3 separate regions of the Homo sapiens genome follow, and regions 1 and 3 are each linked to region 2. Evidence: fine-mapped expression QTL. A gene starts in region 2. Each other region holds a variant in brackets. All regions are shown on one strand. Distances are from middle to middle. Region 1 overlaps RNFT2 (ring finger protein, transmembrane 2). Region 2 holds the start of RNFT2 (ring finger protein, transmembrane 2). Region 3 overlaps RNFT2 (ring finger protein, transmembrane 2).

Evidence for each region. PIP is the estimated chance that this variant, and not a neighbour inherited with it, causes the effect.
Region 1: its variant is fine-mapped to the expression of RNFT2 in cerebellar hemisphere (GTEx, PIP 0.98).
Region 3: its variant is fine-mapped to the expression of RNFT2 in whole blood (TOPMed, PIP 0.96).

The regions. Positions count from the first base shown.
Region 1 is chr12:116,844,174-116,854,728 of GRCh38, reverse strand. It overlaps RNFT2 (ring finger protein, transmembrane 2), which reads right to left. Exons shown (of 11, transcript NM_001382266.1): 11 at 1,098-5,415. The coding sequence ends at 5,281. Among named protein-coding and RNA genes, the nearest start is that of HRK, 32 kb to the left of the region's middle. The variant G/A (reference allele first, on the strand shown) is at 5,422.
Region 2 is chr12:116,735,700-116,745,329 of GRCh38, reverse strand. RNFT2 (ring finger protein, transmembrane 2) reads right to left here and starts at 7,015. Exons shown (of 11, transcript NM_001382266.1): 1 at 6,960-7,015; 2 at 4,809-4,985; 3 at 4,236-4,294. The coding sequence starts at 4,832. It overlaps SPRING1 (SREBF pathway regulator in golgi 1), which reads left to right and starts at 7,261. Exons shown (of 5, transcript NM_024738.4): 1 at 7,261-7,540. The coding sequence starts at 7,430. RefSeq lists enhancers at 6,733-6,992, 7,761-8,719 and silencers at 7,183-7,442, 7,523-7,572.
Region 3 is chr12:116,820,149-116,830,703 of GRCh38, reverse strand. All of the region lies in intron 7 of RNFT2 (ring finger protein, transmembrane 2), which reads right to left. Among named protein-coding and RNA genes, the nearest start is that of HRK, 56 kb to the left of the region's middle. The variant C/T (reference allele first, on the strand shown) is at 4,949.

The sequences.
Region 1 (10,555 bases), 110 kb before region 2:
TTCTATATCAACACTGGGAGTCTCTGAATCCAGCTGTGCCTGAAGCCCATACAGTTACGTAAACCAAATAAAGTCTTTATTTTACTTAAGCCATATTTGAATTGGTTTTCTTTTTTTTTTTCTTTTTTGAGACAGGGTCTAGCTCTGTTGCCCAGGCTGGAGTGCAGTGGTGTGATCACGGCTCACTGCAGCCTCCACCTCCTGGGCTCAAGCGATCCTCCCACCTCGGAGTAGCTGGGACCACAGGCGCATATCACCATGCCTGGCTAATTTTTTAATTTTTTTTGTAGAGATGGGGGTCTCGCTATGTTGCCCAGGCTGTCCTCAAATTCCTGGGCTCAAGCGATCCTCCCACTTTGGCCTTCCAAAATGCTGTGATTACAGGAGTGAGCCACCACGCCCAGCCTTGATGGCAACCCAAAAGTTTGGCCTGATGCGATGTTTTCATGGCTGGTGTCATAATGTTGCCCTGAGAGGCATGTACTGTCACCTCGTGCTATTAATCTACATTTAAATATCTATCATAATCTGGCGCCCTGGAAAACCCTTCTTGAATCAGCCTATACATTTTTGGTCCGCAAAACCTCCAGTTAGCCCCTGTAGTGGGCACTGTAAGTGCCCCACAGAGGCCCTTTCTGATCCCTTTTGCCAGATTCCTATCCTGCACTTTCGTGTGCTTTGCTGGTATCTGGGGCCTTCAGAGGCTTCCCCTTGGAGCCTCTTAGGGGAGAGTCTGAAGTGCAGGAAGTCCCCCCATCAGCCCAGTGCCAAGTATCAATTGGTGTGTATTTTGTGGGATGGGACAAACTCTGAGATGAAACTTATGCTCCTGAGCTCCCTGGGGGATCCGGCTAAGACTGAGAGTTCGCCAGAGCTTGGCTTCTTTCCCTTCCCTGTTCTATTTCACTCATGATTCCCTTACTGGTTTCTCGTGGGAGCACTGCTGTAATAAATCACATGCACCTGAACAGGATCTGCTTTAGGAGAAACCAACATAAGACAACCACCCACTCCGCGAAGGGCTTCTTCTCCTTTGATCTAAGACAGTTGCACTTGGCTTCAAGAGGTGAAAGGAAAATCAAGACCACAAACACAAGTTGCACCAACAGATGGTATTTATTGGCTGAAGGGTACTTTGGGAGACATTAAAACACCAAAGGCAGCTGTTTGTCCTACAGCAGAAGTCCTAAAAGATTCCAGGACCCACTTTATTTACCTCTCTTTCTTCTAATCCCGAGTCTCAGCAGCCCGGATGTCTTCCTAACACTCTGCACATCATTCTTCTCTTCCGAAGCTGATGCACCTATCATATCTGTGTCCAAAGCTTGCCTTTCTTATTCCCTCACATTTATTATTCTCAAGATATTTTACATGAAGAGGTCCATTTCTAAGGACTTCGTGGAACTTGAGTCAGTGAATCATAAAATAATAAGGGCAGGATACTGTGAACCTGATACTCGATTAACCCTACTTACAACAAATGAGTTGCAGAACCAAGATACATAAAAGAGAGTGGCATTGTTCTTTTCCAACGGGGACTCCTGGCTGCTTTCGCACTGGTATAGGGGAATTCATGTAGCCTGTGTTGGAAACACTCCTCATCAGACACTGTTTTCCCTAGGACAGAAGTTAAATCCCCCCACCGAGAAGAAAACCTCAGATGGGACGTTCCCCCAGAGGGTAGGGCATGCACTAATAAAATCCTAAACTAAACCATCCCATCTGCCCCTGTGTGTCCCCCACATGTTACATTCTTTACAGTGTTAACAGGCATGGCTCACTCTTTGCAGTGTTAGAGAATTTTGTTTTATTGTTTTGGTGGCATGGGCATAATTGGAGAAACCATTGGGGTATTCACTAGTAACCTACATTGTTAGTTTCCTTGGTTCCAGCAGGTAATACACTGGGTTCCGTCACCCTGGAGATGGCTACAGGGAGGCTGAGTGACTTCCCAAAGTAATAAAGAGTTTGGAATCAGAATTCCAGGTCTGACTCCCAGCAGACTGTTCTATTTCCTTACACACCTGCACTTTCATCAATCTTCTCCAGCTCCAATTTCTTGTGCCCCTTCAACAGCATCTGCAGGCAGGATGATCTTTCCGATAAAAACCAGTTGCAGAAGTTCCTGTTGCTTCCCTTTGGTTTTTCCTCAGGGTAGGGAGAACAGAGCAGCTGCATTCACATGGCCCCATTTCCCTCTGCTTCCCCTTCCCACTTGATTATTCAGGCAAGTGGGATTGTAACATCATGGCCATCGCCATAGTAACGGAGCTTGAAAGATGCTACACTGCCCTGGAACAGACGTCTTGCTGGGTACCAGGAGAGAGCCAGGGATGCCAAGCCAAGGGGAAAGTCCTGGTTTGGTGGCACACAGGGGCAAATGTCCTGAATCTACGGCGGGGCAGGGGGAAGGGGACATGTTAATACTGGCTGACAGCGAGGTGGCTACAAAGCTCCTCCATTTCTCCTGGGGCTTGCATGGTAATCTGCCCACTAGCCACACAGATTGCTTTCTCTGTAATGCCATTGGCGCCAGCCTGTTGTGCTGAGGTTGACAATAAGAGAACAGACTTGGGAGGAGGAATAGGGCAGGCAAGATTCTGGTGGCTTCTGCGTGGTCACCTGTGCCATCTCATGCCAGATTTCAGAGCAGGGAACATTTCAGAGGTGGAGAAGTGGCTCTGTCATAGAGATCACAGAAGCACAGATGGTTACGGTGCTCCATGCCACTACCCTGGTTGGTGGAAACATCCATAACATAGGTTGTCCTGTTTGCTCTGAAGGCTACCAGAGGGGATGGCAATGTCCACAGGAGCTGCTGACAGGCCTGAGACTTAAGTGAGGGAGATGACAGAATAGGAAGAGGAGAAAGACATAAAGACAGGAGACCAAGGGGTAACCACATCTGGGCCAAAGCTGACCTTTCTTTCTTTCCTTCCTTCCTTCCTTCCTCCCTCCCTCCCTTCTTTCTTTCTTTTTTTTTTTAGACAGAGTCTCACTCACTCTGTCACCCAGGTTGGAGTGCTGTGGTGCAATCTCGGCTCACTGCAACTTTCACCTCCCGAGTTCAAGCAGTTCTCCCTGCCTTAGCCTCCTGAGTAGCTGGGATTACAGGCACCCGCCACCGCGCCCGGCTAATTTTTGTATTTTTTAGTAAAGAGGGGGTTTTGCCATGTTGGCCAGGCTAGTCTTGAACTCTTGACCTCAGGTGACCCGCCTGCTTCAGCCTCCCAAAATGCTGGCACTACAGGCATGGGCCACCACACCCGGCCTCTCGTGTGCTTTTAGAAGACCGTGTCTGCTGGGCCCCATGCCTGGAATGTCTGAGGGGCAGAGCAGTGCGGAGGTTAAGAGTGCGGGCTCTGCTGGGGATAGCGGAGTGTGCCTGTAGTTGCAGCTGCTTGGGAGGCTGAGGAGGGAGGATCACTTGAGCCCAGGAGTTTGAATCTAGCCTGGACAACCTGGATTTTTATTAGAAACCTCATCTCTAATAAATTTATTTTTTTTTAGATGTGGGTTCTGAAACTGTACCAGGCCTCTGTTGGAAACTTGGCCCGCCCATGCTGGCTGGGTGACCCTGGGAAAGTTACCGCACCAAGCTCTGTGCCCAAGTTTCCTCATCTATAAAACAGGGGACCCAACAGTACCTCCCCCATCACAGGGCTGTTGTGAGGATGACAGCACGTAATCCAAGCAGGATGCTGCATGCTTTGCCTGCTGCGCATGAAGTATTTGGGACCTTAAGTCATTACAGGTATATGGTGGGGCCCAACAACTGTATTTTGAAAATACTTTGGGCCAGGTGTGGTGGCTCATGCCTGTAATCCCAGCACTCTGGGAGGCTGAGGCAGGTGGATCACTTGAGGTCAGGAGTTTGAGGCCAGCCTGGCCAACGTGGTGAAACCCCATCTCTACTAAAAATACAAAAAAAAAATTAGCTGGGCATGGTGGCACGCATCTGTTGTCCCAACTACTCGGGAGGCTGAGGCAGGAGAATCACTTGAACCCGGGAGGCGGAGGTTGCAGTGAGCCAAGATCGTGCTATTGCACTCCAGCCTGGGCAACAGAGCAAGACTCTGTCTCACAACAACAAAAAAAAAAAAAAAAAGAAAAGAAAAGAAAAAATACTTCACAGGGCTCACAGGGATTCTAATCTGCAGGCCTGGGCTATCTGGGAGGCAGTGATCTCTAGGCTCCTCCCCAGCCTGCACCATCAAGTCCTAGGTACTAGGTACTAAGTTAAAATAACCAGCAGGTGGGCTGGGCACAGGGGCTCATACCTGTAATTCCAGCACTCAGCACTTTGCGAGGCCAGGACAGGAGGATTGCTTGAGCCCAGGAGTTTGAGAACACCCTGGACAACATAATAAGTCCTCGCCTCTACTAAAAATTAAAAAAAAAAAAAAATTAGCCAGGCCTGGTGGCACACACCTGTAGTCCCAGCTACTTGGGAGGCTGAGGCGGGAGGATGGCTTGGGCCCAGGAGTTCAAGGTTGCAGTGAGCTGTGATTGTGCCAACTGCACTCCAGCCTGGGTGAAGACCCAGACCCTGTCTCAAAAAAAAAAAAAAAAAAAAAAAAGTGAGCCTGGGCACGGTGGCTCATGCCTGTAATCCCAGCACTTCGTGAGGCTGAGGCGAGCTGATCATTTGAGGTCAAGAGTTGGAGACCAGCCTGGCCAACATGGCAAAACCCTGTCTCTACTAAAAAATACAAAAATTAGCCAAGTGTGTTGGTGGGTGCCTGTAATCCCAGCTACTCGGGAGGCTGAGGCAGGAGAATCGCTTGAACCCAGGAGGTGGAGGTTGCAGCGAGCCGAGATTGTGCCACTGCACTCCAGCCTGGGTGATAGAGCGAGACCTTGTTTTAAAAAAAAAAAAAAAAGGAAGGAAGGAAGGAAGGAGGGAGGGAGGGAAACAGAGAGAGAGAGAAAGAAAAGAAAAGAAAAAAGAAAGAGAAAATAACCAACAAGTGGGAACTTCATGTATTGCCAGGTCCTTGACTTGGAGTGGAGAAGGAAGATGCATCTAGAAGGGCATCAAGTCTGAGTTAGGAAGACGTCCCCTTTTGCAGGGGAAGGAGGCACGCACTATACCACAGAACGAGAGAGGAAGATGAAGGTCAGAAGGACAAGACAGGGGCGGGACTTTGGGGTCAGAGGTGGTGGAGGGCAAGAGGCAGGATGTAAGTGCTTGAGGCCTGTTTCTCAGGAAGCCCCCGCAGGGCTGGGTCCGGGCATGCTGACCCTTGGCGTCCTTCTGGGTGTCCTCAGTGTTCGGTCCTAGTACACCTGGAAGTGTGCGGACGTGGCGCCGTCCTTCCAGCAGCGCAGGGTGTCCACGGCGACCGAGCGGCAGAGCGGGCAGGTGCGCTCACGGTCCAGCCACAGGCAGAGGCACTCCTCACAGAACACGTGCTGCGG[G/A]GACAGCAATCAGCAGGCACCAGGACTCTTTACTGAGCGTCTGCCTCGGTCTCGGGAGCAGGAGAAGGGGCAGCGGACTAGACAGACAACCCCTGCCTTCGGGGCGCCTGCACTCGCGTTGGGGAGACAATGCGACTCCAAAATACTGAGTTATCAGTAGGAAGCACCAAGATGAAACAGCAGGGGAGGGGACAGGTGTGGTGGCTCAGGACTGTAATCCCAGCACTTTGGGAGGCCGAGATGGGCGGATCACCTGAGGCAGGAGTTTGAGACCACCCTGGCCAACATGGTGAAAACCAGTCTCTACTAAAAAATACAAAAATTAGCCGGGCGTGGTGGTGGGCGCCTGTAGTCCCAGCTACTCGGGAGGCTGAGGCAAGAGAATCGTTTGAACCCGGAGGCAGAGGTTGCAGTGAGCTGAGTTTGTGCCACTGCACTCCAGCCTAGGTGACAGAGCAAGAATCTGTCTAAAAACAAAAAAACAAAAAACAAACAAACAAAAAGCAGGAGGGAGAAGGAACAGGGAGGGCTTGGGCGGGTTGGGACGTTAAGGACAACTTTACGGAGATACTGACATTTGGGTAAAACTTGCAGGACAGTGAGGAGTGAGCCCTGATGAGATCTTGGGGAAAAGCACTTCTAGCAGCAACAGCAATGTGCAAAGGCCCTGAGGCTGGACTGTGTTTGATGTGCGGGAGGAACAGGAAGGAGAGGATAGCTGGGCTGGGGTTGTTGGGGTGGATGGGAGAGGGAGATGAGGTCACAGAAGTGATGGAGGGTGAGGGGTGCATATGGTGTAGGTACTTGTGGGCCATTGTGAGGTCTTTGGCTCTTATTCTGAGAGAAGTAAGGGGCCCATGGTAGGGCTTGGAGCAGAGGAGTGACCTGATATGATTTGCAGTTTAAAGCGATCCCTCCGCCTTCTAGGTTGAGAATAGAACACAAGGGTCAAGAGGAAAGGCAGGTAACTAGTGCTACGATAAACAGATACATGCACGCATACGTTCACTGCAGCACTATTCACAATAGCAAAGACATGGAATCAACCCAAATGCTTATCAATGATAGACTGGATAGAGAAAATGTGGTACATATACACCATGGAATACTATGCAGCCATAAAAAGGAACGAGATCATGTCCTTTGCAGGGACATGGGTGGAGCTGGAAGCCATTATCCTCAGCAAACTAACACAGGAACAGAAAACCAAACACCACATGTTCTCACTCATAAATCAGAGCTGAACAATGAGAACACATGGATACAGGGAGGGGAACAACATACTGGGGCCTGTTGCGGGGGCTGGGGGAGGGAGAACATCAGGATAAATTGCTAATGCATGTGGGGCTTAATACCTAGGTGATGGGTTGATAGGTGCAGCAAACCACCATGGCACACGTTTACCTATGTAACAAACCTGTATATCCTGCACATGCATCCTGGAACTTAAAATTAAATTAAATTTTTTAAAAAAGAGAGAGGGCCAGGCGCGGTGGCTCACACCTGTAATCCCAGCAGTTTGGGAGGCTGAGGTGGGCGGATCACCCGAGGTCAGGAGTTTGAGACCAGCCTGACCAACATGGAGAAACCCCATCTCTACTAAAAATACAAAATTAGCCAGGCGTGGTGGTACATGCCTGTAATCCCAGCTACTCGGGAAGCTGAGGCAGGAGAATCACTTGAACCCTGGAGGCAGAGGTTGCGGTGAGCTGAGATCGTGCCATTGTGTTCCAGCCTGGGCAACGAGAGCAAAACTCTGCCTCAAAAAAAAAAAAGAGAGAGAGAGAGAAAGGCAGGGAGATTGGAAAGACCAATGGGTTCCACCGTTCTCTGGCTGTATAACTTGGACAAGTAATGCAACCTGTCTGTGCCTCAGTTCCCCCATCTGTAAAATGGGGATAGAACCCCCTCATTGGAAGATTAATTAACATGTTAAAAGTACTTAGCTATGACAACCAAATGCAGCACATGAGTCTTGATTGGTCCCAGGGGTGGCAAAAAAAATGCCAGCTATAAAGGGCACTTTGAAGGCAACTGGAGACATCTGAATATGTACCATATATTAAATAATATGTCACATTAATTTAAAATTTCCTGGGTGGCCAGGCACAGTGGCTTACACCTGTAATGCTAGCACTTTGGTAGGCTGAGGCGGGGGGATCACTGAGGTCAGGAGTTTCAGACCAGCCTGGCCAACATGGTGAAATCCCGTCTCTACTAAAAATACAAAAATTAGCCAGGCATGGTGGCACACGCCTATAGTCCCAGCTACTTGGAAGGCTAAGGCAGGAGAATCGTTTGAACCCAGGGGGCAGAGGTTGCAGTGAGCCAAGATCGCGCCACTGCACTCCAGCCTGGGCAACAGAGTGAGCTAGATTCCATCTCAAAAAAAAAAAAAAAAAAAAATCCTGGGCATGCTAGTGGAATTGTGATTATCTGAGAGTATGTCCTTGTTCCTGGGAGATGCACACTGAAGTATTTAGGGATGAAGAATCTAAATGTCTACCACTTACTCTTAACTGGTTTAGGGAAAAAAAAATTGATGTCAAAAAAAGGGCAAATGTAAAATGTTAATGATCAGTAAATCTGGATGAAGAATAGAAGAGTTTCATGCAACTTTCCTGCAGGTTTGAAATTTTTCAAAATGAAACATTTGAGGAAATAATAATAAAAAAATCTAAACAAAATGTTTTTTTAAAAGCAAAACCACAAAAAAGAAACTGGGCACAGTGGCTCATGCCTATAACCCCAGCACTTTGGGAGGCGAAGGCAGGAGGATGGCTCGAGGCCAGGAGTTTGAGACCAGCCTGGGCAACATGGCGAGACTTCCTCCACCCCCATGCCCCATATGTCTCTACAAAAAAAAAAAATTAGCTGGGCATGGTGGCATGTGCCGTCCCAGCTACTTGGGAGGCTGAAGTGGTGGGAGGATTGCTTGAGCCCAGGAGGTTGAGGCTGTATGAGCTATGATCATGCCACTTCACTCCAGCCTGGGAGACAGAGTGAGACCTTGTCTAAAAAAATAACAATAATATAAAAAAGAAGGCACTTGGAATAATGACTGGCAAATAGTAAGTGCTCTATAACTATTAGCTATTATGATAGTAATAATGATTATTATCTTATGTGTTTACAGTTTATTATCTGTCTCTCCATACCAGGCTGTAAGCTTCTTGTAAACCCCTTCATTCCTAGCATGGTGTACAGTGGGTGCCTAATTGTAGACAGTGCTCTGAAGGAGATTTCCATGGTATTATGGAGGTGTGTGACAGAGGGACCAGTTTGATCCAAGGGGTAGTCAAGGAAGGTTTCCTGGAGGTGGGGACACTTGAGTCGAAGCCTGAAGAACATTTGGCAGTTAACTGGGCAGAAGAGAGGGGATGGGATAGAGATAGAACATTCCAGGCTGAAGGAAGTCTCCTGTGCAAAGCTCCTGAGATAGGAAGATGTTTGAGGCACTTGAAGATAGCTGATGTGGCTGTAGTTGGGGGTGCAGGGGAGAGAGGGATTGGGGAAAGGAGAGAAGTCCACACAGAGCCGCGAAGACCATACTGGATTCTCATCATGGTCTGGAGGGCAGGACCCAGGGGTCAGCAAGCCCTGCAGCTTCTACAGATTCCCACTATGGCACCCATTACCCTCTATGATGGCCCGTCTCCCGTCCAGCCCCATCCTCACACCCTGGAGTAACTGATGTCATTGACGTGCCACATGACCTTCAACCCATGGCTTATTCACAGCCTTCCAACCAACTTTAGTATCACTCTGGGATGCCCTTTCTCCATCTTGACCAGCTGGGTGCATGCCCAGTTCTTTTGGAAGACTCAGCCAAGCAATCATGTCTCCCCTGTTTTATGATGTTGCCCCGATTCCATCCTGTTACTGTCTCCTGCAAATGTAAGTACTGATCGCGTCTTCTCTCCTATGCCATTCTTCCTGGTGAAAACCCCTCTCAAAGCATTGCATGAGGAATTATTTGCAAATTCATCTGATTGTTCACTAGATTAAGAGCTCTCTCTCTCTCTCTCTCTCTATATATATATATATATTTTTTTTTTTTTTTTGAAACCGGGTCTTGCTCTGTCATCCAGGCTTGAGTGCAGTGGTGCGATCACAGCTCACAGCAGCCTTGATCTCCTGGGCTTGAGTGACCCTCCTGCTTCAATCTCCCAAGTAGCTACAACTATAGGCACGTGCCACCATGCCTGGCTAATTTTTTAATTTTTTTGTGGAAATGGAGTCTCACTTTGTTGCCCAGGCTGGTCTCAAACTCCTGGCTTCATGTGATCCTCCCACCTTGGCCTCTCAAAGTGCTGGGATTATAGGTGTGAGCCACCATGCCCAGCCACTGGATTGAGAGCTTTCTGAGGGCAGAACCTGGTTTTATGCTGAGTACGGTTCTTGCTCAGATGCTCAGTAAATATCTATTGACCAACCAAATGGGACTTAACTATGCTACCCTGGACAAAAGAGGTACTTACATAGGAGAATGCAACACAACCCCTGTTCACATAGACTTGGTTAAGTGAATGGGAAATAGCCATGAAATTTAGCAGTTTTTTCACTCATTCATTCAACACATTCACTGAGGCTCTCACACTTCTAATTTAATAGTTCTCAGATATTCTGGTGCTAAGACCCCTTTATATTTTTTAAAAACACTGAAGACCTCAAAGAGCTTTTGTCTATGTGGTTTAAATTTGTCTATATTTACAAATTTAGAAATATTAGAAATATTTAGAAATAGAAACGGAGACATATTTAAAACATAATGGCCAGGCACGGTAGCTCACGCCTGTAATCCCAACACTTTGGGAGGCCAAGGTGGGCAGATCACGAGGTCAGGAGTTGAAGACCAGCCTGGCCAACATGGCGAAAGCCTGTCTCCACTAAAAATACACAAATCAGCTGGGCATGGTGGCGTGTGCCTGTAATCCCAGCTACTCGGGAGGCTGAGGCAGGAGAATTGCTTGAACCGTGACCTGGGAGGTGGAGGTTGCAGTGAGCTAAGATCGTGCCACTACATTCCAGCCTGGGCTACAGGGTGAGACTCTGTCTGAAAAACAAAATGAAACAAAACAAAAAAAAAACCCATAATACACAAGCACATATTCATGAGCCACCAGAGTGATGA
Region 2 (9,630 bases):
GGTGGTGCATGCCTATAATCCTAGCTACTCAGGAGGCTGCGGCAGGAGAATCGCTTGAACCGGGGAGGCAAAGGTTGCAGTGAGCTGAGATTGTGCCACTGCACTCCAGCCTGGGCAACACAGTGAGACTCTATCTCAAAAAAAAAAAAAAAAAAATCTGGTGCAATGGAGGAAACTCACGATTGGATTCCCTCCCTCACCAAGCCCCACCCCTGCTGGCTCCAAAAGCCCAGGAAATATGCGCTCCTCCTCCACTGGGCTCTGGATAATAATAATGATAATATTAATAATGACAACAACAGCAAACACCATGGCTATGATCCTCAAGGGGCCTTGAGCTTTTTCTGCACTTCAAAGAGCTCAGCTCAGAAAGCAAGAGCCCTGGCAGGTACCCATGTTGGTCCATGAGGAGGCCACTCTCTCTCCGTGGCCACCCAAGGGGCCCTAGAAAGCCATCCTGTCCCCCTTGAGCTTGCCAGCACTCTGAGTTCACTGGGCTCAGGGGCCTCCAGTACAACCAGGGAAGACTCAACTCACCAAGGGGCTTTTTATAGCTGGCCTCCCTTCCCTGGGCCTCTCCCCTGCATCCAGCCGAGATTTCAGCCTGACTGGGAAAGAATATTCCTTAGGGGGACAGAGGCTGTGCTTCCAACTTAACCACTTAAGCGCCAGAGCTTGAGGCAACCCAGGAGGAAAAGTGGTTCTGCTCAGACACTAGGCAGCCAAAATGTGCTATCTCAAAGCACAGGTGCTGGGGGACACAGGGATGGGGGCCCAAATCTCAGCCCTGCTACTTCCTGGCTGTGTGACTTTAGGTAATTTCCTTCCCCTCTCTGAGCCTCAGCTTCTGCATTTGTAAAATGGGTGCTCTCACTGGGCTAATGTGGCGGTTGGCACAGCATAAGCACTCAATACACGGTTTGAGTTTCCTGCTGTGCTCTCTGCCCGCAAGAGATCTCATGGTTCACTTGAGAGCAGATGACAATGTTGTCTTTAGAGGCGGAAAAGGTTCCAACAGGCAGGCTTATTACAAGCCGGATGCTGTTTCTGCATCTTCACACTCACTCCTTCATCCATAAACAACTCTTTTTTTTTTTTTTTTTTGAGGAGGAGTCTCACTCTGTCACCCAGGCTAGAGTGCAGTCGCATGATCTCTGCTCGTTGCAGCCTCCACCTCCAGGGTTCAAGTGGTTCTCCTTCCTCAGCCTCCTGGGTAGCTGGGACTACAGGCATCTGCCACCACACTGGCTAATTTTTGTATTTTTAGTAGAGATGGGGTTTCAGCATGTTGGCCAGGCTGGTCTCAAACTCCTGATCTCAGGTGATCAGCCTGCCTTACCCCCGCAAAGTGCTGGGATTACAGGCATAAGCCACCATGCCTGGCCCATAAGCAACTCTTGAGTTCTGTTACCTGCCATTTTTGGATGGAGAAGCTGAGACCTAGGGGTGAAGTCATGTATCAAAGTCACCACAGGTGGGAAGTGGCTGAGCTGGGGTTTGGCTGAGCCCCGTGTTCTTCCCTGCAGAACAGGCAGGCACCATACAAAACTCAGTCCCAGTGCTGGGACCGGGGGATACCATTTGTGATTCTGTAGCCAACCCCAGAGTCGCAGGGGGTATGGGATGTGAGGAAGGGAAGGCTTGGCTGCCCGCCCCTTGGATGTATGTGCTAGGACAGGGCTTCTGGGGCTGGAGGCTGTCCCAATCTGAGAACAGGCCCCCAGGTGTGTTCCCTCTTGGGTTTCAATAGATATAAATTCTAGGCTGGGTGCAGTGGCTCATGCCTGTAATCCCAGCCCCTTGGGAGGCTGAGGTGGGCAGACTGCCCAAGCTCAGGAGTTCGAGACCAGCCTAGCCAACATGGTGAAACCCCATCTCTACTAAAATACAAAAAAATTAGCCAAACGTGGTGGTGCGTGCCTATGGTCCCAACTACTCGGGAGACAGAGGCATGAGAGTAGCTTGAACCCAGGAGGCGGAAGTTGTAGTGAGCTGAGATTGTACTACTGCACTCCAGCCTTGGTGACAGAGCAAGACTCCATCTCAAAAAAAAAAAATTCTAGCTCATGAGTGTTTTTTAACCGGTTTTTTTTTTTTTTTTTTTTTTTTTTTTTTTAGATTCTACCTGGTATCTATTAATCACAGGGCCAAACTAACGGCCAAAGTTATTTACATGTCCTTGTGATCCAGAGCCCATAACCCCAACCACTGCTTCATTTAACCTTTTTTTTTTTTTTTTTTTTTTTTTTGAGATAGGGTCTCACTCTGTTGCCCAGGCTGGAATGCAGTGGTGCAATCATAGCTCACTGCAACCTCCACCTCCTGGGCTCAAGCAATCCTCCCACCTCTGCCTCCTGCATAACTAGGACCACAGATGCATGCCACCATGCTGGGTAAGTTTTTATTTTTTGTAGAGATAGGGTCTCCCTATTTTGCCCAGGCTGATCTCAAACTTCTGGGCTCAAGCAATCCTCTCACCTTGGCTTCCCAAAGTGCTGAGACTATAGGTATGCACCACCATACGTGGCTAGTTTTAAAGTTTTTTAGTAGAGACAGGATCTCCTCATGTCACCTAGGCTGGTCTCCAACTAACTCCTGGACTCAGGTTATCCTCCCACCTTGGTCTCCCAAAGTGTTGGGATTACAGGCGTGAGTCACTGCATGGCCCTTCCTTCATCTAAGTTTTACACACGCAGCCAATATTTCTCCTGTCCTAAATCATCTAGGGCCAGACACCAAACTAAAGAGCACCTTGAGGCCAGGCGTGGTGGCTTGCGCTTATAATCCCAGCGAGCAGGAGCTTGGGCGGCCAAGTCGGACAGATCGCTTGAGCCCGGGAGTTTGAGACTAGCCTGGGAAACATAACAAAACCCTGTCCCTACAAATACAAAAATTAGCCGGGCATGGTGGTGCATGCCTTTAGTCCCAGCTACTCGGAAGGCTGAGAGGTAGGAGGATTGCTTGAGCCTGAGAGGTCGAGGCTGCAGTGAGCCGAGATCGTGCCACTGCATTCTAGCCTGGGCAACAGAGGGAGATCCTATCTCAAAAAAAAAAAAAAAAAAAAGAAACCACCTCGGTACCCCAGAGCCCACCAACATGATTCAAACTAGCCAGTCCTAAACTATTGCCCCTGCCTTGCCTTTCTTTCCCCCAGAAAACACAATAAAGGCTGTGGCCTATGCTTTTTCCTCGGTCCTTTCTGCCCTCTGACTATTGCTGGTGCTTCCCCAGGTGGCCCTGCAAGCAGTAGTATGCCCCTTCATCTTGAGAAATGGAAGAAATAAAAATCTCATCTTTCAATGTCATTAGCCTCTCCGTGTTGTTTCTCAGAGCTATGATCTCAATGTTTGTGTAGATTCTTATGTTGAAACCTAACCCATGCCAGGTGCAGTGGTTCACACCTATAATCCCAGGGCTTTGAGAGATCAAGGTAGGAAGATCGCTTGAGCCCAGGAGTTTGAGGCCAGTCTGGACAACTTAGTGAGACCCCGTCTCTACCAAAAAATTTTAAAAATTAGCTAGGTATGGTGGCACATGCCTGTAGTCCCAGCTACTCAGGAGGCTGAGGCAGGAGGATTGCTTGAGCCTAGGATTTGGAGGCTATAGTGAGCCATGATCACCACTGCACTCCAGCCTGGGTAACAGAGCAAGACTCTCTCTCAAAAAAGAAACCTAACCTGTAATTTGATCGTATTGGAAGGTGGGCCTTTGGGAATGATTAGGTGATGAGATGGGCTCTTCACGAATGGGATTAGTGCCCTTAAAAAGGAGACCCAGAGAGATCCCTTTCCCTTCACCACATTAAGACATAGCAAAAGAATGGCCATCAGTGAACCAGAAAGTGGGCCTTTCGCAGACACTGAATATGCTGGAGCTTTCATCTTGGACTTCCTAGCTTCCAGCACTGTGAGAGATAAACATTTGTTGTTTAAACCACCCATTCTATGATATTTTTGTGATAGCAGCCTGTATGGACTAAGACATCTCTATAAATCAAAATTCCACAGGTACATTCATTGATACAATGAGTCAGGTGGCTCACCTATCACACAGGACTTTGAAATTTAGCATAAAAGAAAGAGCAAGCTATTATGCGTTGAATGTTTAGTATGAGGCCATCAGTGTGACTCTAACAACTAACGCTGAGGGTGAGGTATTGTTCAATCCAGTTTTGGGTTGCCCCTCACCACCCGAAGCCTAGAGCCCTCAGATGGAACAGAAGCAGGGATGCCTACCTTTCAGGTGGAATGTTATCCGTGTTGCTGCTGTGGCGTCTCTGCATCTTCCTTAACACCTAAAACCCAACACATGGGTGAGCCAGAGTCTCCCAACACTCCCACTGCCTGTCAGATTGCCAAGGTAATTGTAAACTGCAAACCTGCACTAGTCGTATCTTAGACCCCTAGTGCTCTCTGGCATTTTCCAAAGTATGTTTCAATCTTTCATGCCATTCCATCCTCAATGTGACATTCTATCCCATGAGGAAAGCTATCACCCCATTTCACAGAGGAGGACGATGAGACTCAGAGGTGGAGAAAGTCCTCATGTGAGAGGATAACGCGGTAAACTGTGCAGCCAAGAGGTGCTGGATGAAGTGAAGTGGGCAGCGGACTGGCAGGAGACATGGATTCTGGGTTGATGCTGCTGCTAACTTGCTGTGACCCTAGACAAATCAGTAACCCCTCTGTGGGTTCAGATTCCCCATGTGTTACATGGGAGGGGTGGAGTGGTCAAACCAAAACTTCCTTCCAGCTCTCACATTTAATCAAGTAGTAATAAAGATGCAAATTCTCTTGGAGACGTGTCACCTGATTCACTGTGAAGAGCCACATGGACTTCAGAACTCCATGTTGACGACACTGGAGGTAGGCATTCGGGAATCCTCAGGGGGATGTGACCAATGGATCCCAGAGAGGACAGGCCTCCCCCTCCTCTTCGTCTCCAGAGGGATGCACAGTCAGGGGAGCTTGCCAGAGACTCCAAACCTGGATGGAACAGAACACCTGGATGAACAGTCCCTGCGATACCTTGAATCTGCTAAGAAGCCTTAGGACATTGTTGGTAGCTATAAGCAGATGATTCCATCTGCTCAGTATCTCTGGGTAGCCTCTCAGTGATCCCCCCTTGAAACTCCTTTTTTTTTTTTAAGACGGAGTGGTGCGATCTTGGCTCACTGCAACCTCTGCCTCCCAGGTTCAAGCGATTCTCCTGCCTCAGCCTCCTGAGTGGCTGAAATTACAGGCTTACAGGCATGCGACACCACGCCCACCCAATTTTTGTATTTTTAGTAGAGATGGGATTTCACCATATTGGCCAGGCTGGTCTCAAACTTCTGACCTCAAGTGATCCGCCTGCCTTGGCCTCCCAAAGTGCTGGGATTACAGGCATAAGCCACCATGCCCGGCCCTCTTTGAAACTCTTAAGGTATTGTATTTCATCCTATTGTCAAACTAAGAGTCCTGATTGGGGAAGCCAGAAAATATGTTTTAAACCCTCCAACGGCTGCCCAGTGCAATCAGAATCAAACCCGAGCTCTGTCCATAGCCTACGGGTTCTTCCTGATGTAGCATCATCTGTTTCCAACTGCATTTCCTCCCATTCTCCCTTTTCCCACTCCTGTCCACCCACAGTGGCCCTTCTGTTCCTCTAATGTGTCAGCGTGTCCCTGCCTCAGGGCCTTTGCACTTGCTGTGCCCTCCCCTTGGAATACTTTCTCCTCTAAATGTGGCAGGGCTTGGTCCCGCAGGGCAAATGTCGTCTCTTCCCAGAGGCCTTCTCTTCTCATTCTCCTGACTCCCCGTAATATTGCCCTGTTTTATATTATTCATAGCACTTATTTGTTCATGTTTGCTTATTTATTTATGATTTGTCCTCCCCATTAGAATATAAATGCCATTCCTGAAAGTAGGGATCCTGTCTACTTGGATCACCCCTCTGCCTCAGCATCCAGGACACTGTTTGGCACAGAGTGGCGCTCAACAAGTATTTACTCAATGAATAAAACATCTATGGGTCTCCCAGTTCCCCTTTTCTAGATCCCTTGCTCCCTGTCCCACCTTTCACCCTAGCAAGGTAATAAGGGCCATCTACTTCCCATGAAAAGGTTTAGCCTCCGTGAATATCTTCTTGTCTCTGGAGGCAGAGCCAATATTGTGGATATAGGGTGTCTATATCAGTCAGATGGTGTCTGACTTCAGTTTAGGGCACGATTATTGGCTGTTGAATGACTTCCTAATCCTGACCAGGCTTCTTGAGGGGGCAGCAATGGTGTCACTAGGGCCACTGATTAAAAATGACCCGCCAGTGAAGCCTCCTTTCTCTTTTGAAAAATTAGGTAACAAACCGGTCAGCAGCAGCATCTTCATATATCAAGAAAAGGTCATTATATAAATATTTTTCAAGAATTTGCAATCTCAACTTAATCCTCCTCTCGCCCCTCCCTCCATTATCCCACATTGCAAATCCTTGGGGGAAAATAAAATTCATATTCCAAAGTTCTCATCCACACATTTAACTCCTAAATCGAATGCTCGAAACTCTACTTTCGGATGCTTGTATTGGAAGAGGCTTCGGATTCTTTGTCGGAAGCAGGCCGTACATAATTCTGGAATAAATTTTTGCACGCGGGATGCATCTGAATGAATGAAACGCTTTTTAATCCTCTGCTCTGTACATCCCACTATGTCCCTTTGAAGGACCGCACCGAGACTTTTCGATGCTTGCGATGGTTCAAGTTGCGCCCCTGGGGCCCGTTACAGGACTGCACCGAAATGCACTCAGAGGAGCATCGCCTGCATCACTTGGACTGGAAGCCGGCAGGTGCACTTCGGGAACAACGTCGCGAGCGCTTTTCATCCCTGCAACCAACACACAGCGCAAAACGCTCTGGGACTGCAAGGGCAGGAGACTACACAGACCATGATGGGAGAAAAGAAAAAAAAATCGCGTTCTCTTTTTACCTGCCCAGACAATTCAGCAATCACAGCCGCATCATTCAGGTCCAGCCAAGCCAATCACCCGCGCAGCCTGGGCAGCATGTGACTTCCGATGCTTCCGGCCTCCTATTGGGTGGTTTCTTGGCGTCGCCGGGTCCGGCGCTAGGACCCGGGCACAGCTACGCCCGCAGCACTCACGCGATTGTCCGCCCCCTTTCCCGGCACTTAACCAATAGGAGGCCGCCGTTCCTTAGGGACCAATGGTGAGAAGATCTTGCGCGACTAGCCCTTGTCGCTGCGGAGCGGAGGCGGGGCGTAGGGCGGGGTCACGTGGGGCTGCGCCCAAGGCTGCCGGGAGCAGACTGGGCTGCGGGCGGCGGGGCCGGCGCCTGCCTGGAGGGATGGGGCTGCCGGGCGCGTAGGGGCCATGCCGCCCGGGACCCGGGCCTGCCGCGTTCCGCGCCCCGGCCGCCGCGCCCCACGTCCGCGCCGGGATGGTGAACCTGGCGGCCATGGTGTGGCGCCGGCTTCTGCGGAAGAGGTGGGTGCTCGCCCTGGTCTTCGGGCTGTCGCTCGTCTACTTCCTCAGCAGCACCTTCAAGCAGGTCAGTGGCCGCCCTTCCCCTCCTCCCCTTCCCTTCTTCCTTCCTTCCTCCCCCTTACTTTACTTTCTCCTTCCTTCCTTCGTTACCTTCCTCCTTTTTTCCTTCCTCCCTGTCTTCCTACCCCTTCCCTTCCTTTCTTTCTCCCCTTCCCTTCCTTCCTCCTTCCTTCCCTTCTTCCTACCTCCCCTCCTTCCTTATCTTCCTCCTTCCTTCCCCTCTCCCTGCCTCCCTTCCTTCCTTACCTTCCTCACCTTCCTCCTCCTTCCTTCCTCCCCCTTTCCTTCCTCCCCCTTCCCTTTCTTCTTTCCTCCCCTTTTTCCTCTCCCTTCCCTTCCGTCTTTCTTCCTTCCCTTCCTCCTTCCGTCCTCCTCCTTTCTGTCCCCCTCTCCCTTCCTTCTTCCTTTACTCCCTTTCTTCCCTGACATCCTCTTTCCTCACTTCGTTCTTCCTCCTTCCTTCCCTTCCTCCTCTTTTTCCTTACTCCTCGCGTTTGTCCGACCTCCCGACTTCTGCAGCGGCGCCGCCGGGGCGTCCGAGGGTGGGGAGAGGTGCGCATTCCTGTCCCGGTCTCAGCACGGGTGAGGGACCTGCCCACCGCCTTGGTCCCTGCAGCGGGAAGGGGTTGCTAGGCCAGGGCAGAGCTGGGACTAGAACCCCGAGTTGAGGACCCTTCAGCGGTGGGGACTGCTTTTATGAACACCTCCCTGCTTTTCACCTGCCCGGTCCAGAGCTAAGAGAGGGCGTGCATTTGCTGGCTTCATCTTCGCAGCAGGCCTGGGAGAAGTGGGGTTCCCAGTATTACAGTGGGGGAAACCAAGACATAGGTGGCGAGGGTCGGCCAGCCCTCGCATGGGTGCCCTTCGTTTAATTTGGGGGCTCTGTGTCCTCCTGGGTGACTCAAAAGGACCCACAGTTCCTTTTATGCTTTTTGTGCATAACTTGATTGGTAGAATTCCACCCCTCCAACACACTGCACCCTTTCATTTTTCTTCCATGTGAGAATTTCTGGGAGAAACAGCAAGGAGCACGGGTGGGGAAATCTTACCCAAAGCATTAATAAGTTTGTCTAGAAGTCCAGGTTGAGTGCTTAGTTGTGTAGAAAGGGTGGTTACACCCCAGGGTGCACCCAGGATAATGGGTTATGCTGTTGTCCTGACATGGTTATAAAAAGCTCTCCTTTTTACTCTCAAAGCTCAAGTGTGTAAATAAAATATATAAGTGAATAGAACATTGATAAAACTATGTGGTCACTCTACATTTAGTGGATTGGCAGGGGAGCTGTGAAAAGGGAAGAATAGGGAATTGTACGTGACCTGCCACCTTAGGCAAACAGAGAGGCTGAGTGTTGTAAGTCCCTTTTATTGGCCGGGATGTCTGGGCAATCATGTGACTACCAGACTTCTGTGACTTGTGTTTTCTGCCACCTCAGACACCTCCTCACAGTCGCGTGTTGTCCCTTCTCTGTCTTGTGACCCCTGAGTGGTGGGGTGCGCCAGGACTCCGTCCTCTGCCTTCCTCTCTATCTGACTCAGGTAATCTCTGGGCCATTGTTTAAATACTCAGGTGATCTCTGGAGGTATGCTGTTGATGCCAGTAGTTGATAACAACAGCCTAGATCTGTCCAGAAATCCCCAAATTCTTATATCCAATTGCCTAGTTGATATCTTTTTTTTTTTTCAATTTTTTTTTATTGTGGTAAAATACGACATAAAATTTCCCATCTTTTTTTTTTTTTTTTTTTTTTTTTTTTAAAGACTGAGTTTTGCTCTTGCCCAGGCTGGAGTGCAGTGGGACGACCTCAACTCACCACAGCCTCCACCTCCCGGGTTCAAATGATTCTCCTGCCTCAGCCTTCTTGAGTAGCTGGGATTACAGGCATGCGCCACCATGCCCAGCTAATTTTGTATTTTTAGTAGAAACGGGGTTTCTCCATGTTGGTCATGGCTGGTCTTGAACTCCCGACCTCAGGTGATCCACCCACCTCAGCCTCCCAAAGTGCTGGGATTACAGGTGTGAGCCACCACGCCTGGCCAGAATTTCCCATCTTAACCTTTTTTAACATGGAGTCTCACTCTGTTACCCAGGCTGGA
Region 3 (10,555 bases), 85 kb before region 2:
TCCTGACCACAGGTGATCCACCTACTTCACTTCAGCCTCCCAAAGTGCTAAAATTACAGGTGTGAGCGACCGCGCCCAGCCCTGATTCAATCCTATACTAGCAAAAAATGTCAATAGGCCAGGTGCAATGGCTGACACCTGTACTCCCAACACTTTGGGAGGCTAAGGTGGGAGGATCCCTTGAGCCCAGGAGTTCAAGACCAGCCTGGGCAATAGAGCAAGATCTTGTGTCTACAAAAAATTAAAAGATTATCTGGGAGTGGTGGTGAGTTCCTGTGGTCCCAGCTACTTGAGAGGCTGAGGTGGGAGAATTGCTTGAGCCCAGAAGTTCGAGGCTGCAGTGAGCTATGATTGTGCCACTGCACTCCAGCCTGGGTGACAGAGTAAGACCCTGTCTCGAAAACAAAAAAACAACAATAAAAATTGAAAAACAAAATAATGTCAATGGGGCAACTGGCAAAATGTGAATGAGGTCTTTAGGTTAGTAGTAACAGTATTGATGTTCATTTCCTGCCCTTGCTAATTGGACTCTGGTATATCAGATATCAACATTAGGGGAAGAGGAATGAAGGGTATATGGGAACTCGCAGCATTACTTTTGCAACTTTTCTTTAAGTCTAAAATTATCTCAAAATTAAAAGTTAAAAAAGAAATCATCCTGATGAAAGATATCATTTGACCCAAGCAAATGCTCATATTATTGTTCCAAATGGAAATAATAGAGAATGCAAAAAAAAAAAATCCTCATTCTCTTTGTGTTTTTATGCTCTCTCCAGATTTTTTATACTGAGCATGTGATATGTTTAAATTAGAGGGGAAATGAGTCTGGGCATGGTGGCTCACACCTGTAATCCCAGCACTTTGGGAGGCCAAGGTGGACAGATCTCTTGAGGCCAGGAGTTCAAGACCAGCCTGGCCAACATGGTGAAACCCTGTCTCTACCAAAAATACAAAAAAATAGCCGGGTATGGTGGCACGTGCCTATAATCCCAGCTACATGAGAATCACTTGAACCCAGGAGGTGGAGGTTGAAGTGAGCCAAGATTACATCGTATGCGTGGCATGTGGACAGAGATTTATAGCCAACTTTTATATTCCATCTTGATGGGCTGGGCACATGTCACTCAGAAGAGGATTCCTTGGAGCACGTACACCCACATCTACCAAGGACCAAGAAAGGGCATCCAATCATCACTCACCCCCTGCCTGATTTTTGTGACTAGTTCGCCACCTCCAGTTGTGAGGCCATTGTTTCCCAAAGGGCCCTCCTTTCCCCTCCTGACTCCCACCAGTCCCTGAGCCCCAGAAACATCCCCTGGAGGGAAATGCTGGTTTCCCTCTGGAACTTTTGGGAAGATGGGGGGTGACTGGAGTACAGAGATGTAGGGGGTGGCCGTCATGTTTGTTTTACATGGACAAGGGCATGATGGATGCTGGACCAATGGACAGCAACTTAGTGTATGGCCAGGGCTAACCAAGCCTGTCCATATCCTGCTGCAGACCCCAAGATCTGCAGAATATCCATGATTTGAACTTTCATTCCCTGAACCACCCACCCTCAGCTGCCCCATGCCTCCCTCATGTCTCCCAAATTGCTCTCACCCATGGTCTCTCAACTCTTGCATATTCCATCTTACCCTGGACTAAACTGTCCAACCTCTCTCAACTGCGAGTCTTGACCTGCAGTTTTTTTTTTTTCCACTTAAAACATTGTGTGTTTTAGAGATGGGGTCTATCTATGTTGCCCAGGCTGGTCTCCATCTCTTGGGCTCAAGTGATCCTCCTGCCAGCTTGGCTTCCTGAGTCCCCTGTAGGGACTACAGATGTGAGCCACCATGCCTGGCCTTAACCTGCTTTTGTCACTCTTCCCTACATTCAGTGCACCCCTAGATCACTCTTGTTTCCTTCCTTCCTTACCTTTCTTTCTTCCACCCATCTGTATTTCCTTTCTTCCTTCCCTCCCTTCCTGCCTTTTATCCATTGATGCTGCCTTCCTTCCCTTTCCTCTGCCCCTCCCTCCCTCTCTTCCTTGCCCACTCCCTTTCTTCTTCCCTCCCATCCTTGCTTCCATTTCTGGACACCTACTATGCACCAGACACAATGCCAGGTTCTGGAGGTACTAAGATAACTAAGACCTCATCCCTTCATCAGGAAGCTTGCTACCCAATGAGGAAGACCATCACTAAGCAAACTACTATAATACAGTGTGGTAGAACTCTGCTAGAGGTGAATGTGAGTGGGCCCCAGAATTGAGGCATGGGATGTGGAGGGGAAACTGATCAACAAAGTCTAAGAGAAGTTATCTTTCCAGCCACCCAAAGTGTGAGCCATGAACCAGCACCATCAGCATCGCCTGGGAGCTGGTTAGAAATGCAGGCTCTTAGGCCTCACCCCAGACCTCCTGAAATAGAATCTACAATTTAATAAGGTCCCCAGGTGACCCGAGTGCACATCCAAGTTTGAGAAGCACTACTTTAATGGATGAATAAGAGCCAAGCTGGTGAAGAAATGAGGGCAGGTAAGGGAGGAAGGGTGTTCCAGAGCCAAGAGGTGAAGGAAAAGATGGTCACTGGTCTGAGCGCCATCTTGGTGGGCAGCCTCCTGCTTCGTCTGCCTGGTCTCATGACAGGTAAGGACACGGCTACCCCATGAAACGTCCCTGTGTCTCTGGGAGCCCCTGCCTGCTGGCATCTGGCTGACTCTGGTCCCCTCTCTCTGTTCTTCCTTGCAGGCCAGTCTCAACAACCAGTCTGGCTTGGTGGTCAAGAGCACAGCCCCAGGAACCAAAGAGGCTGGGATCAGACCTAGGATTGTCACTTGCCACCTTAGGTTTAGTTTTGGTCACTGTCTTTGGATCTTCCAATTCTCAGGCCCCTGAGCTGCAGGCTGGTTTCTGGGCCAAATCCCAAACTTCCCACTTGCTATTGGGCAGCTCTAGAACAAGTGTTGGCAAACTTTTTCTACAAATAACCAGGTAGTGAGTACTTAGCCTTTGCAGGCCATACGGTCTGTGGCACCACTACTCACCTCTGTCACTACAGTAGGAAAATAGCTGTGGACAATAGGTAAGTGAATGGGTGTGGCTGTGTTCCAATAAAACTTTATTTATAAAAACAAGTGGCAGGACGTATTTGGCCTGTAGCCTGTAGTTTTCTGACCTGTGGTCTGTTCTATCAGAATCTAGATAAGTCACGATGGGGATTCTAACACATCCCCAGGATTTCCCAGAAGGCTCTAATACCAGCTTCTTTCCCTGTCTTTCGGTTGCTTAAGGACACCAAGCTCTTCCTTTGCAGATGGAATAGTGGTCCCTCTACTCTTTGCTGAGCTAACATCTATTCATCTTTTGGGTCTCAGCTAACTGTCACCGCCTATGAAAAGCCTTCCCTGACTTTTTAATTGAATCAGGTGCTCCTGTTATGTACACCTTTGAAGACTCCCCTAAATCACTCCTTTCTTTCTTTCTTTCTTTTTTTTTTTTTTTGAGATGGAGTCTCACCCTGTTGCCTAGGCTGGAGTGCAGTGGCATGATCTCGGCTCACTGCAGCCTCCGCCTCCTGGATTCAAACGATTCTCCTGCCTCAGCCTCCTGAGTAGCTGGGATTACAGGCACCTGCTGCCAGACCCAGCTAATTTTTTGTATTTTAGTAGAGACAGGGTTTCACCATGTTGCCCAGGCTGGTCTCGAACTCCTGAGTCAGGTGATCCACCCGCCTCGGCCTCCCAAAGTGCTGTTTACAGGTATGATTCACCACACCCAGCCCCTAAATCACTCCTTCAAAGCATTTTTCACAATATTAAAAAATTATTTTTACTATCCATCCCTCCCACTGGACTGTAAGCCCCTTACGGGAGAAGATAATTTGACTCTGGGTATATTCCCAGCATCTAGCATGTAGTAGGTGCTCATGTAACAAAGGAGGACCTCTTGAAGCTGAAGATTCCATCCTTATTACTCAAGTCAACTTCCTACAGTTTGCTGATGGAGGAGAGTTGAAACGCTGAAGAGAGAATATCTCTTTATAAGCAAGCACTGATGTCACAGCAAATAAATTTAGGAGAGTGAGAGCCTATGTGGCACCCCGTTAAAGGTAGCAATTAGCTGCCGGGGGTGGGCCACTTTGAAAAGGAGATCAAACCACCAAGGAAAACTGGGCATATCCCAGCAAAACCATCTCTCCCTAATTAAGCAGTTTTATAATTCCAGGTTTCTTAAGCATGTTATTTCTGACGACCACCAAATGGGATGTGTGGTTTCTCTGGGGCTTCAGAGAACAAGGAATACGATCAGATTATGAGCTGTCTCGCCTCCCTGCCACCGTGAAGGGGAAACGGTAGCAATTGTTGCAGGACGTGCTTGGGCATGGACGGTTCTCTGCTTGGATTCAGATAAAGGGGGTGGGAGTGTCAAGTTGGGAAGGCGGATTCTATTCCGACTTCCTCACTGCCAAGATGAGGGGTGGGACAATAAGAGAAATGGGAAACATCGAAACAACAGAGGGCTGGCTCCAGAAGCGGGTGGGAAATGAAGGAGAGTAGGATGCTGAGAAGCAGAAGAAATGAACAGAGAGGAGAATTTTTTGGAAGAACGCACCTACATGGGAAAGATGATTTGAAGACTTGTGGGGGTGGGGAGGAAGGGAGGAGAGGCATAATCAAGTATCTGTCAGCAGCTTCAATGTATGAAAAATGCACAGACAGAGATGAAACCTTTTTTTTTCTGTATCAAGATGAATAATATTTATACAGCTTTGCCTGTTTACGAATCTCTTTTATACACATTTTTTCATCTGTGGAGGCAGGACAGCCTAGTGGTTTAAAGGCGTGGGATTTGGGATTCTAAGGTCACATCTATCACCTATTAAATTGGTTGATTTGGCACAATAATTCAACCTCTATGACCCTCAGTTTCTTCATCTGTAAATGGGGTTGAATACACACATACATA[C/T]ACACATACATATAGATATGCATGCAGTGCTGTGCTGGAAAACTAGGTCTCTGGGGGAAAGAAAAGGCCCTGATTTGTGTGTTTGCCAATTTCTGTGGTATAAATGTTCCCACAAGGCCAGCTTCAAGCTACCAATGATTTAACAACTGTTTGCAAATTTCATGAAAATGTAACCATTGGCTCTCACATGTCAGTAAAACCTGTATTCAACACACCAAGGTGATCTTATGGATTAAATAAGCCAATAAATCTAAAACACAGGTACATAAGAAGGGCCCAGTACATGATACAGCTAGTACTGGCCCTCATGATAATCCAGAAATGTGGCCATTATGTTACTGCTGCCTTATTTTAGAGATGAGAAAATGCAGGTTCAAATGAACTAAGGTGAACTAGAATTAAGGCAAAAGTGATATCTGGGACTTCCAAGCCTAGGCCTTAAGAGATCAGACAGCTTTCACTTCCTTCCTTTTGCTTGTTCTCCCTCCTCCAGCCACCATGTTTGTGGGAAGCCCAAGCTATAAGGAGAGTCCCAGTGAAGAGGACATGTGGAAGGGGAGCAGCTCTGAGACTAATTGGAGGAGAAACATGAAAACCAGCCAACGGTGAGAACTGAGGCCCCAGATACAGGACCTTAAGAAGGCCATTCCTGCCATTGCAGCTGACGCATCAGACCTGGGAGTGAAGATGCCATCTTGGACAGTCCAGCCCCAGCAGATATCATGGGGAGGAGAGACAAGCTGTACCCGGTGTGTCCTGACTGAACTCCTGACCTGCAAAATTGTGAGAATTAAATGGTTTTTTCAAGTCAACAACAACAACAACAAAAACTAAAGTACCATCTAAGGCTACTCAGCTGGTGCTATAGACTGAACTGTGCCCACCTCAAGTTCCTTTGTTGAAGCCCTAATCCCTAATGTCATGGTATTTAAAGATAAGGCCTCTGAAAGGTAATTAGATCATGAGAGTAGAGCTCTCATGATGGGATTGGTTCCCTTATAGGAAGAGACATGAGAGATCTCTCTGCCACTTGAGGACACAGTGAGAAGACAACCTTCTGCAAGCCAGGAAGAGGGTCTTCACCATGAACACAATTATAAGCATCATGTAGAAACTTCAGAGAAGCTTTCACCTTATTCTTCCCCACTTTCTCTATCCTACTGTCTGGAACTTGGATGTGATGGCTGGTGCTCTTGCTACCATCTTGGACCATGAGGGGGAATCCCACACCCTAGAGCTGGTGAAGCAGTGGGCTGGAAGGTGTCATACTCCCAGGCTCGGGCTGCTTATCTTTGGCCTTTACATGAGAAAGAGATACATTTTTTAAATTTAAGTCTTATTATTTTGGATTCTTTGCTGTTACTATTTGATTCCAATCCTAACTAATAGAAAGCGTTTGGGACTCAGTAGGTGACCAAGAAATATTTGCTGAATGAGTAATGGACAAATGAGGGGGCAAAGTAAATGGCCTTGTGCTTTGAAACAGCTGGGTTTCCCATAGGCATGGCTCATAGAGAGCTCTAATGCTGAAGATACTAGGAATGGGAGTCTATACATAACAAATGTTCTAGAAAATGATGAGGGTAGGAGTGAGACGGGGAGGGTTGGCCAGTGACTGCCATGTTGGGCACAGAAATACCATGGGAAAGACCTGGGAAAGAAACGTGGCCCTGGGTGCAGATCCTAGCTCTGCCTCTTCAGAGATGAGGCCCTGGATTCTGAGCAAGCACAATGGCAAAGAGCATGGACTTGGGAGTCAGATGACCTGAATTTGAATTCTGATTCTGTCTCTTCCTGAGTTACCTGGGGCAAGTCACTTCATCCTTTTGTGCCTCAGTTTCCTCGCTAGTAAAATGGGGCTAATGGTAGCCCCTGGCTCCTAGGGTTGTTGGGAGGATGAATGAGCAAATGTGTGTAAAGCATTGAGTTCAGTGCCTGGCGCATGGTAAGTGCTCAATAAATGTTAGCTGCAGCACTGTTAGCAGCCTGGAAATATGAAAAAATAAATTAAGTCTGGTCAAAGAGGATGGCAGTGGACCAGGAAAGCAGAAGAATTATTATTATTATTTTTTTTAGACAGAGTCTTGCTGTTTACCCAGGCTGGAGTGCAGTGGTGCAATTTCGGCTCACTGCAACCACCGCCTTCCGGGTTCAAGCAATTCTCCTGCCTCAGCCACCAGAGTAGCTGGGATTATAGGTATGCGCCACGGCGCCCAGCTCATTTTCATATTTTTAGTAGAGACAGGGTTTTGCCACATTGGCCAGGCTGGTCTCAAACTCCTGACCTCAAGCGATCCACACACTTCGGCCTCCTAAAGTGCTGGGATTACAGGTGTGAGCTACCACGCTTGGCCTGATTTTTATATGTCACCATTTATAACATGAAAACAGGGTTAAAGTGTGGCATTTGAAGTCAGGTAGCTAGGTGCGCATCCTCTGTATCTGTGTGACTTTGGGCAAGCTGCTCTCCCTCTCTGGGCCTCAGTGTTCTGTGTGATGGGGGTGTTGACCCAGCTCCGCCATTCTGGGCCTCTATGCACTGTTAAAACAACTACTGGTGTCACTTTAGGCTATAAGTGACAGCTAACATGAAGTAGCTTCCACAAAGAAGGAAATGTATTAGGTCACAAAACTGGGAAGGCAGGGGTGGCTCTGGCTTCAAGGATTCCTGGATCCAGGAGGTCAAACAATATAGTCAAAGAGCCTTCTCTAGTTCTCTAGTTGTATTTTTCCTTTTGTCTTTTCGTTTTTTGCTTTTTGAGACAGAGTCTCGCACTATCGCCCAACCTGGAGTGCAGTGGCTCAATCTTGGCTCACTGCAATCTCTGCCTCCTGGGTTCAAGTGATTCTCGTGCCTCAGCCTCCCAAGTAGCTGGGATTATAGGCGTGCACCACCATGGCTGGCTAATTTTTCTATTTTTAGTAGAGATGGGGTTTCACCATGTTGGCCAGGCTGGTCTCGAACTCCTCAGGTGATCTGCCCGCCTCAGCCTCCCAAAGTGCTGGGATTACAGGTGTGAGCCACTGCACCCAGCCAGTTCTCTTTCTATCTCTCCTCTTCTTCCCCATCTCTCAGCTCAGATGTCTCTGTTTCTTGTGTGTAAGTTTCATTCTCTCCTGCCAAGGTTGGACTCACTGCAGGTGGTAGTAGTGGTGGTGATGATGATGATGGTGACTTAGCTGTTAACTATGTGCTAGGCACCACTCTGTGCACACCACTATGAGGCAGGTGCTATTAATACTCTCACTTTACAGATAAGGAAATGGAGGCACAGAAAAGTTAGATAACCTGCCCCAGGTGACGCAGCTGGAAAATGCTGGATCTGACAGTATCTAGTAGGAAAGATGGCCACTGGCAGCCCCAAGCCAACACTCTTACAGCTGGAATTGCCACAGAGAGAGAGAGAGACAGAGAGAGAGACAGACCCTGTTTCTCCTGGGGCCATTTGCCAAAATGATGGCCCTGCTTCCCTCTGGGAACCAAGCTCTGAGGCCAAGAGGTCATGGGGTTCTATGATTGGTCAGTCCTGGTCACAACCATGGGGGCAGCACTGTGACTGACGGTGTCATCAGAACTAAGGGGACAGAGAGGAGGGCTGGTTCCTCTGGTTGAAGGAGGTTGGCCAGGCAGGGTGGCTCACACCTGTAACTCCAGCACTTTGGGAGGCCGAGGCACACAGATCACCTGAGGTCAGGAGTTCAAGATCAGCCTGGCCAACACGGTGAAATCCCGTCTCTACCAAAAATACAAAAAATTAGCTGGTGTAGAGGTGCACACCTGTAATCTCAGCTACTCTGGAGGCTGAGGCAGGAGAATGGCTTGAACCCGGGAGGCAGAGGCTGCAGTGGGCTGAGGTTGCGCCACTGCACTCCATGCACTCCATGCACTCCAGCCTGGGCGACAGAGTAAGACTCTGCCTCAAAAAAAAAAAAAAAAAAAAAAAAAAAAAAAAGAAACAAGTAGTCAGAAAAAGGAGGATAGCTTCAAGGACTAAAGCTAGCAAGCTAGCACAGGGCCAGGAATCTGCATTTCAAAGCCCTCCTTCCACATGTGGAAAAATAAGCAGGAGGGACTGCTTCCAGCCTCCTGGGCCAGAGGGGGCCCTCAGCCTCCTGCGAGACTTTTCCTTGCTTGCTTTTCTTCCCTGGATGGACTGCCTGTTGGCTCCCAAAAGCCCCAGGGTATGGGGGCCACAAGTCCTGCTCCCAAGTGGGCGGCCAGGACAAGGAACTGAAAACAAAGACATGTTGTCCTGGGAAGGTGGCCTGCGGGCCTGTTAGGATGGTGGGGTTGTGGGGACCACAGCTGGCAGAGTCCTGCAGACCCAGCACCGACCTGGAGGCTTGAAGGGCTGGGCTAATGAGCTGAGGCCCGTGCTGGGTCTCCTCCAGTGCTGGGGGTGGGATCGGGGCTGGACCACTGACTTCACAGCAGCGCCCGGCCAGGAGGGGTGGGAGAAACAAGTGTGACGGGGCAGGACTGGGGATAGAAGCAAGGCTAGAGAAGAGCACAGGAAGGAAGGAGGGAAGTGGATAGAAACAGGAGGGGGAAATGGGGCTGGGGGCAGAAGAAAGGAAGAGAGAAATGGCAGAGTTAGAGGCCAGAAGAGAAAGAACACCCAGGAGGCAGAGTCCAGGTGAGAAGGCAACAGGGGAAGAGTAACCCCCGTATTAAGCGCTTACCAGGGGCCAGGAACGGCACACCAATTGCTCCTCTTGTAGGTAGTTATGACGCGTTCCCATTTCTTAGATGAGAAAGCTCAAACACAGAGGCAGGGGAGGGAAGAACAGAGTGGGAGACCCAGCAAGTGAGAGGATTACAAGAGGAAAGAGAGAAGGACTAGGGCTGGCTTCTAGTTTAGTGATGAGTTTCTCGGTTGAACACTTAGTACCTGCAGGCTGTCCCCAGACTCTGACAATCCCAGGAGATGGACACTGAAATTATTTGCCCCTGTTAACTGGTGAGGAGAGAGAGGCTCAAAGAGGCAGGGTATGTTGTTCGAAGTTGCTAGACAGTGGTGGAGCCGGGATTTAAATCCAGCCTGATTTTCCAGAGTGGCTTTGTGCCACTCTGAGAAACAGAGAAAGGGAGACCCTAGGAGACCTTAGGAGATAAAGTAAGATGTGGGAGAAAGAGAAAGAAAAGATACAAGCTATGGGGGTAGAGAGGGAAGGATAACTGAAGGATGATAAAATTCAGAATAATGGGTACCCCTGGTGGGGGAAGTGAGGACACAGGAACTTTCCAGATGCCGGAAATGTTCCATATCCACCACAGCCAATCCAGTAACCACTGGTCACATGTCGCTATGGAGCACTTGAAATGTGGCTATTCTGAATTGAGATGTACTGAAAGTCTAAAATACACAGGGATAGCTGGGCATGGTGGCTCACACCTATAAACCCAGAACTACGGGAGGCCGAGGCAGGAGGACCCCTTGAGACCAGGAATTCGAGACCAGACTGGGAAACATAATGAAATCCTGTCTCTACAAAAACTAGCCAGGCATGATGGCGCACGCCTGTAGACCCAGCTACTCGGGAGGCTGAGGCAGGAGGATGACCTGAGCCCAGGGAAGTCGAGGCTGCAGTAAGCATGATCGTACT